Homo sapiens: one gene and its partner. The protein of the gene in region 1 purifies or fractionates together with the protein of each later gene. This does not show direct contact. Each region holds a gene or a part of one and is shown on either strand. Other genes may lie near its edges.

The links.
Region 2: the proteins of TIGD7 (region 1) and FBP1 purify together in Homo sapiens (affinity purification with mass spectrometry; one large-scale study listed by BioGRID and IntAct). This does not show direct contact.

The regions. Positions count from the first base shown.
Region 1 is NC_000016.10:3,302,569-3,307,083, reverse strand, and holds the start of TIGD7 (tigger transposable element-derived protein 7), read left to right. Parts: upstream 1-1,653; 5' UTR 1,654-1,872; intron 1,873-4,515.
Region 2 is NC_000009.12:94,629,232-94,633,041, reverse strand, and holds part of FBP1 (fructose-1,6-bisphosphatase 1), read left to right. Parts: intron 1-3,810. UniProt on the Homo sapiens protein: Catalyzes the hydrolysis of fructose 1,6-bisphosphate to fructose 6-phosphate in the presence of divalent cations, acting as a rate-limiting enzyme in gluconeogenesis. Plays a role in regulating glucose sensing and insulin secretion of pancreatic beta-cells.

The DNA of each region.
Region 1 (4,515 bases):
GCTACCCAGGAGGCTGAGGCAGGAAAATTGTTTGAACCCGGGAGGTGAAGGCTGCAGTGAGCTCAGACTGTGCCACGGCACTCCAGCCAGGGCAGCAAAACGAGATTCCATCTCCAAAAAAAAAAAAAAAAGTTATTTAAAACTTATGAACTGTTTATTTCTGGAGTTTTCCATTTAATATTTTTTGGATGGCAGTTGACAGCGGGTAAGTGAAACCCAGATACAGTGGGGGGAGGGGGTACTACAGAAAGTAAAAAAGTAGCCTATTTTCAGACAATGTCTCCCAAGTAAGCAACAAGATGCTCATCATTCTTTGCAACACACATAAAGGGTGCCATGCAGATGATTTATACGAATTTTGTTTTTTTTTTTGAGATGGAGTCTCGCCCTGTCACCCAGGCTGGAGTGCAGTGGCGTGATCTCAGCTCACTGCAACTTCCACCTCCCCGGTTGAAGCCATTCTCCTGCCTCAGCCTCCCGACTAGCTGGGATTACAGGCGCGTGCCACCATGCCCGGCTAATTTTTGTGTTTTTAGTAGAGACAGGGTTTCACCATCTTGGCCAGGGTGGTCTCGATCTCCTGACCTCGTGATCCACCCATCTTGGCCTCCCAAAGTGCTGGGATTACAGGCGTCAAACACCGCGCCAGGCCTATATGAATTTTTAACTGTGCTTACTTGATCTGGAGAAAATTACAGCTGACCTCTGTTTACAAAATATCAACTTGTAAAAAAGGATATTTTATTTACAAAATATCAAGTCGTATTTTCTTTCTGTCGCTGATGTTTATGAAATATCAACTCCAACAGGAGTTGGTGACGATGAAAGTGAAACTTTCTGCTGACTTTGTATTTCTCCAAAGGTCATTTAGACTTCTAAGGGGGGCTGAGGAGAGCCGTGAGCCTCACTTTTCCTGAAGTGAGCCAGCAGAAACGGCACCGAAATTCTGCCCAGGATGCCACCGGTATTCAAAGAAGTGGCCAGCTCCTTGCTGCCCACCCCGGTTCCAGAAGCAAAGAGACACTTCCTATGTTTTTGCATCAGTAGAAGCTGCTAGCCCTGAGGCTCAACCGACCGCATGACATCGGCCGGACACGGAAATGCCGGCGGAGGCGGGAAAGAGTCTGCGGGCGCAGCTGCAGGCACTGCTGCCCGCCAGCACTCGGATTCGCCACAGCCTGTGTCTGCGACAGGCGTGCCCGTGGGCACTGGGCAAGCGGGCAGTGTCCCAGCGAGCTTCAGCCGCGCCTCTGGGATACAGCTGCGAAAAGCGGGGAGAGAATGGTTTCTCGTGCCCGACGGTGGCCCCGCCTCAGGCTCCAGCCGCGCGGCCCGGAAGCGCCGCGGCCACCGCCTACGGAAAATGGCTGCCTCCCTGCGGCCGCCGCCGCTCCAGCGGCTCCAGGGTCGAAGCCATAGGGGAAGCCGCTTCTCGGTTACCTCGGCCAGCTTGGCTTCCGTGGAGGCCGCTCCTCGCTTTCTGAGGCTCAAACGCAAGCCACCGCCCGAAAGGCCGCCGATCTGAGGAGCGCAACCGCCAGCCCACCGCTGGCCTACCGCAGCCCTGTCCAGGTACAGAGCCAGAGCGCCGGCCGGAAGTGGAAGTGACGCTTTCCGAGGGTGGCGCAGGCCCGCCCTCTGGCTAAGGCGCCTGAGCCCGGCCTACTTCCTCGCCAGAGAAACTGCTGTCTTCCCCGGCGGTAGGGAAGGGTTAATGCCACCGAGTATCCAGACCCGCTGAAGCCTAGAGGGCCTTGTACCGGCTCACCGCGTGGCTGTCGCTGTCTCGTGTCCCCAGTGGGGGAGGCGTCGCACTGCCGCGTCTGTTCTGCGTGGCTGTCGGGCGGCGTTTGGTCCCGGGAGCCTCGCCGGGTAAGGGTCGCCTCCCAGCTGCGCGCGCCGCGTTCTCGGGCTTCCCGCGGCCCGGCCGGCCGTGCTCGAGCTGTTGCTGGGCTCGTCGCCGCCTCCTCGAGGAAGAGGCATTTTGTCCGGGTCGGGCCACTCGCTAGGTCAGAAACAGCGGCCCCCCGAGGGTTTTGTACCGTTTTCTAGGTCTCGTGACGCATTCCCCACAACTATTTTTTCTTGAGGTAGGTTTGAACCTGTGAAATAGGTTCTTTTTCTATCTCTCCTTGACAGAGAAACGGAGACCTAAGAAGTGACTTGCTCAGGGTCACATAGCTCAGCAGTGGCGGCCGCTAATCGGAAATAGCTCTCCTGTTGTGGTATCCTCTGCGTTTTCCACTCCAGTATTCTTCCCTGGAAAATGGGAACCTTGTTTTCATCTTATATCTCATGCAGCGCCTAACATAGTCACCTGGTAAGATAGGCATTCCACACATATTTACTGAATCATAGTTATAAGAATCTGAGTGTTTTGGGTGTTCAGTGATCTCTGAATTAATCCGTTTTTGTAATGTCAGTCTGTACCAGTTGAGGGATTATTTAATAAGTCCAGTATGAGTGGTTTCGGAATTACCAGTTTTTGTAACGTCAGCTTATACCAGTCAAGGGACTATTTATTAAGTCAGCTATGTGTAGCCAATATTGCAGAGTTGAGTAAGAAGTCTTTGTCCTTAAGCAATCTCTTGAAAGGACTGAGCAATTTCGTGAATATCAGTAACACAAGGGTAAGAATAGGACATAAACTGAATGCTGTGAGAACTCCAAGAAAATCCAAGTTGATTTGGGGTTGGGGGAAATTATAAAAGACCTTGAGGGATTTTGTCCACAGCAGGGAATGGAGACACTTTCCAGGCAGAGGGAAGGGTAGGAGTAAAGGCTTTAAAAGCTGGAAACATTAGACTGTGAGATCTTAGGTACGTTTTTACTGAGTTGGGCTGCATTTAGAGGAAGAGTTTTAAAAGTTAGAAAACGAGTTTATGTGGCACTTATACTGGAGTCCTTTGAATGGGAATGAAAAGAGTGCATTTAAGAAAGTAAATCCTGGCCGGGCGCGGTGGCTTACGCCTGTAATCCCAGCACTTTGGGAGGCCGAGGCGGGCGGATCATGAGGTCAGGAGATCGAGACCATCCTGGCTAACATGGTGAAACCCCGTCTCTACTAAAAAATACAAAAAAAAATTAGCCGGGCGTGGTGGTGGGCGCCTGTAGTCCCAGCTACTCGGGAGGCTGAGGCAGGAGAATGGCGTGAACCCGGGAGGCGGAGCTTGCAGTGAGCCGAGTTCACGCCACTGCATTCCAGCCTGGGCGACAGAGCGAGACTCCGTCGCAAAAAACAAAACAAAACAATACAAAAAAGTAAATCCTGGAGCACCATTTGAGCGTTTTGGACTGAGCTGCTTTCTATGGCAGTTCATCTAAGGTAAGTTTAAGGTGAGAATGAAGATGAGAGGCCATTACCAGGCCATTATGCTATTTTTGCTTTTGGATGGGATGGTATGTAACTCCTCTTAGGCATAGATCTTGATCCTTTTTAAGTGAGAGAGAAAGATAAACAGATTTAATAATGAGCATCTGCCTAAGTCACTTGAATTTGTGTCTAAGTAGGTTCATTTCCTTAAAATCTCAGCCAGGTTGGGACTTCATTTCTTCAGCAGTAAATATTCTCAGTCTATCAGAACCAGTGGACAGTAGCGCCATCAGCATTAAGATTCTCATCACCTGGCCCAATGCTGAATATATAATTAGAATTTATTAAGTTGAATAAGTGAAGTTCTGCTAGCAGTGCTAAGCAGTGCCCTTGGATATCATTGACAGGCCTGATTCATAACACAGGAAGTTGGTTAAAGGGAAAAGGGATTCATGGGAAAAAGAGGCAGCAAGGCACAAATTGTGAATAGTGAATAAGAGGCACTGGTGATTTTCATTGTGTGAGGTTTGCTGCCATAGTGGCTTATCCTTTGAAGCCCACAAACATTCCTTGAGCCTTTCCTTTTGGTTTCACCTCCCCTTGCTTGGGCACTGTTTTAGAAATGATGACTGTGGCTGGGCGCAGTGGCTTACACCTGTAATCCCAGCACTTTGGGAGGCCTAGGTGGGTGGATCACTTGAGGTCAGGAGTTCGAGACCAGCCTGGCCAACATGGCAAAACCTTGTCTGTACTAAAAATATAAAAATTAGCGGGGCATGGTGGTGCGTGCCTGTAATCCCAGCTACTTAGGAGGCTGAGGCACGAGAATGGCCTGAACCCTGGAGGCAGAGGTTGCAGTGAGCCGAGATTGTGTCACTGCACTCCAGCCTGGGCGACAGAACCAGACCCCATCTCAAAAAAAAAAAAAAAAAAAAAAGACGACGGCACAGCTGAGAAGCATTGAAAGCAAATACATTAATTCTGAGACACCTACACAACTGTCATAGTGGCCTGAATATTTTTGCTAGGTGACTAGCTTGAGTTAATGGTGCTGCTATTGGCTAGCAAATACTTTTTTATTTTTCTATTTATAAGTGAAAGAGATAAACCAAGATTTATGTCTGAGTTATCACTTACTAACTGCCTTAATTATAGTTGCCTCATTTAGAAAGTTGCTTGATCGTAGCCTGCCATTGGCTCCA
Region 2 (3,810 bases), on another chromosome or scaffold:
AACTTGAGATGTTAGAGGGTGATCTGTTGGGAGATGCTGTCCAGCTGCAGGCTGTTTTGCCTGTCTGTTTTGGCACGCTTGCCCTGAGGCAGAGAAAAGAGGAGGAGATCTGGACCAGTTTAGCAGACAGGAATGTGCAGGGATTCAGAGCACGTTTTGGAGAGAGATGGAGCCAAGCTTAGATTCCTGGCCCTGCCATTCAACGTCTGTGAGGATTGGGCTGTTGATGTGACATCACTGAACCTGTTTCTCCAATTGTTAAGATGGAGACAGCCTCAGAGACTCGTAGGAGGATCAATTAAGTTTACTAATTGGGTACCAATGTTATTAATATCATTGTTTTCCTGAAGGCTATATTTCTTTATTTTTCAGACAGAGTCTAGCTCTGTCACCCAGGCTGGAGGGCTGTGGTGTGGTGTGATCTCGGTTCACTGCAACCTCCACCTCCAAGGTTCAGGTGATTTTCCTGCCTCAGCCTTCCAGGTAGCTGGGATTATAGGTTCCTGCCACCACACTCAACTAATTTTTGTATTTTTAGTAGAGACGGGGTTTCACTATGTTGGCCAGTCTGGTCTTGAACTCCTCACTTCGTCATCCACCCGCCTCAGCCTCCCAAAGTGCTGGGCTTACAAGTGTGAGCCACCGTGCCTGGTCTATTTTATTTTCATTTTTTTGTAAACTTTTATTTGCATGTTTTGTTCTTCATTTCTTAGCAGTAGCCTGTATGCTATCAGCAGGGAGAGAGTCCAGGCTAGCATGTTACATATTAGAACAATGTTGCACCCAAGAGTGGCTGCAGGAAATGTCCTCCCATCAGACTCATATTATGTCCAGAAGAGTTACTTTTATATATGGGGTCCTCTCAGCTGTTTGACAGAAGAAATAATAAAGAGCTTCAGATTTCGTTTTAGAATGACACGTCAGCTAATACACGTTTAGGCTTATCTTCCAATTTGCAGTTTTTGGCATTAAGCTTTTAGAAACTTTACCAGATTTATTTTATGTTTCTTGAATTCTCTTCTCCACATGACCAAGGAGTGAAATTGCAAGTTTGTTTGCATAAAAGAAGCGCAGACAGCCACGTTCCATCCTGTTTACCAGTTTAGGCCCCGGTGAATGCAAGCAGAGGCAGGTATTTGTGACCTTTGAAAGCAGCTCTCACTAGCACCTCTTCAATGTATTTCTGAACCTTTGGATGTTCCTGGCTGGGCAAATGGTTGATTACCATGGAATCAAGCAGTAACAAGCCAGTCTTACCTTTGACTTTAGTGATAAGGATTAAGTAATAATCTCCCTCCCTTTTGGTTGAGCTGCGTGTTCCGAGCCCGAGTCTGGTTCTTCTGTGTGCTGTGTGAAGTGTTGCTGCTGCAATCGTGTTACTCAGTCACAGTGACTTCGGGAGGAGATGGTCCTAAGTCAGCAGATCCAGGCAGCCCTGGAGGGCTCTAGTTCTGTCAGCCCCTGGCTCCAATCCTTGTGTCCTTCAGTGTTTTAGAGATGCTGTGGAAGGCAGCCTCCCCCAATCATCACAAATCTGCATGTTCAGTGTCACAAAGTCCATGGCTGTGAAATGGTTCATTCTGTTTTAGAAACCATTTGTAAACTTGGAAAACAATGCTAAAATTTAATTAAAATATCCAAGGATTTCAAAATACTGGCCACATTAATCTATGCTTCTAAGGTGTTCTCCATCATATGAATTAAAATGACTTAGAGCTCTTTAAATTTTTCAGTGGGATTTACAGTAAAAGTAAAGAAGAGATATTATAGGCAGTTTCTCCAGTTGAGTTCTGCTCCCCAAACTCCAGGAAGAGCTCCTTCGTATCTCTGGGGCTGGAAAGGGAAAGGACACAGAGACTTCAACCCTGCCTGGTGCTTTTCCACTTTACTTGGGCTGCAGGGCCAACTAATTTGAATAAAATTGAAGTGAAATGTCAAGAACATCTCAAATAAATAATATTCCCAGTGAGATTTTATCAAATGTAAACTTGGAGCACTTTTTTCTTCTTTTGCCAGTTCCTTATTGGCTGTCCTCCAAGAAGTTGCCTGCAAAACTGGTTTAGAGATACCTCCCCTTCCCCCAATCCCCAGATCAACCCACACTTACTTAGTGGATGCCTGCGGGGCTCTATTGTCATGTGGCTGCCTTGGTGGGGAGTACTATGAACCAGGTGCACCGCGCGCATTATCCATGATCCCCACAAACATGGCCAGAAACAGCCACTCAGGGGCTTTGCACAACTTGATGTCACATCATCAGTAAGAAGCAAAGGCAGAATTTGAACTGAGGTCTTTCTGGTGCTGAGTTCTTGCTTCTCCGCATGGTTGTGTTATGCCAAGGGAGCTAGAGGTGGAAACGGTAATATTTCTTGCACACTTGCCTATGCACCAGGCACTTTTCTGACCACTTTACCTGTATCAACTCAGTTATGCCCCCTCTCTGTAGACTATGAAGCAGACACACTACATTCCCATATTGCAGATGAACCAGAGGTCACAGATGCTAAGTGACTTTCCCCGGCTGCTGAGCATGGAGCAGAGCTGGGATTGGAACCCTGGTGGTGTAGAGTGCCAGCCTGGGGCCTTGACCATTACACTCTAGTTTCCTGAGGAACCGGGTGAAAGGCCATTGCATTTGTCTAACGCTAAGTTTGCACAGCAAACACACTTTTACCAAGAAGCTATGCTAATCTGGAGGGTTTTTTTCAGGAGTTGGGAGTGTTGGATGGTAGAGGTTATGCAGGCAGGCATTACCAATACCACTGGGTCTAATGGAGTTTATGATCTTAGGAATTCTTGGATCCTTTTATTACTCTCTAAATTTATTCATCCATTTACATTGAGAACTTACTATGTGCAGGCATTGTTCTAGGTGCTAAGGATACATGGTGAACAAAATATTCTTTTTTCCAGGATCAAGACTGATAGGTCTTTCTTCCTCCAGAGGCACATTCAGATGTGCCATGTTTATGTAAGAGTTTCGGTCCCCTTGGAGTATACACTCGGCATTTACCTGGTGCCCTGTACTTTTGCTTCAGACCTCACTAGAAAAACCTCTGGCTGCCTGTAAGGTTCTAATTTCGAATGTCCCAGGTAGAGGGCTGTGCCATCCTCAGGATGGCCCAACAGGTGAGGTGAGCTCAGAGGCCCTCCACTCTTGGCATTCTTGTACAAAGCAGGTTGGGCCCAGGCCTCTTAAGATCGAGGTTTTAGGTAGCATTTCCAGGGGTGGCAGCCCTGTCTGTGCCCTCCCTCCCAGTGGCTCTTAGAAGAGAGTGGGCCATTCCTAAGGCCATGAAGACAATGCCCCATAAAGGTCATGCTTCCATGCCTGAGGGCTCTCCCGGTCCTCTCTTGGTGGGGGTTGAGAGACTAGACCCTCCCCCCTACCTCCCCAGGAGTGGGGGTTATGTGATGTCACCAATGCTGGTGTCTCACTCTTGCACACATTTTCCAGGCTCCTGGCACCATGGAAGATCTCCTGGAGGCTGGTGCCTTCAGCTTCAGGCTCTGATCCTTCCTTGTTGCTTTAATTATCCGTCTTACCACCCAAATCAATTAACAGGCTTCCTAGTTAACAGGCTTCCATTTTCTAGGCCAAGGCTTGAGAGGTGAATTAGTTCTTCCAAGCAGCTGTGGTTTTATTTCCAGAAGCGCCCCCATATCAACAGCTGTGCCTATTCAATGGCCATGGATCTGTGAAGGGCACGAGCAGGACTCATGCTAATCAGCTCTGCTTTTTCTATATTAAAAAAAACCTTTGGCCAGGTGTGGTGGCTCACGCCTGTAATCCCAGCACTTTGGGAGGCC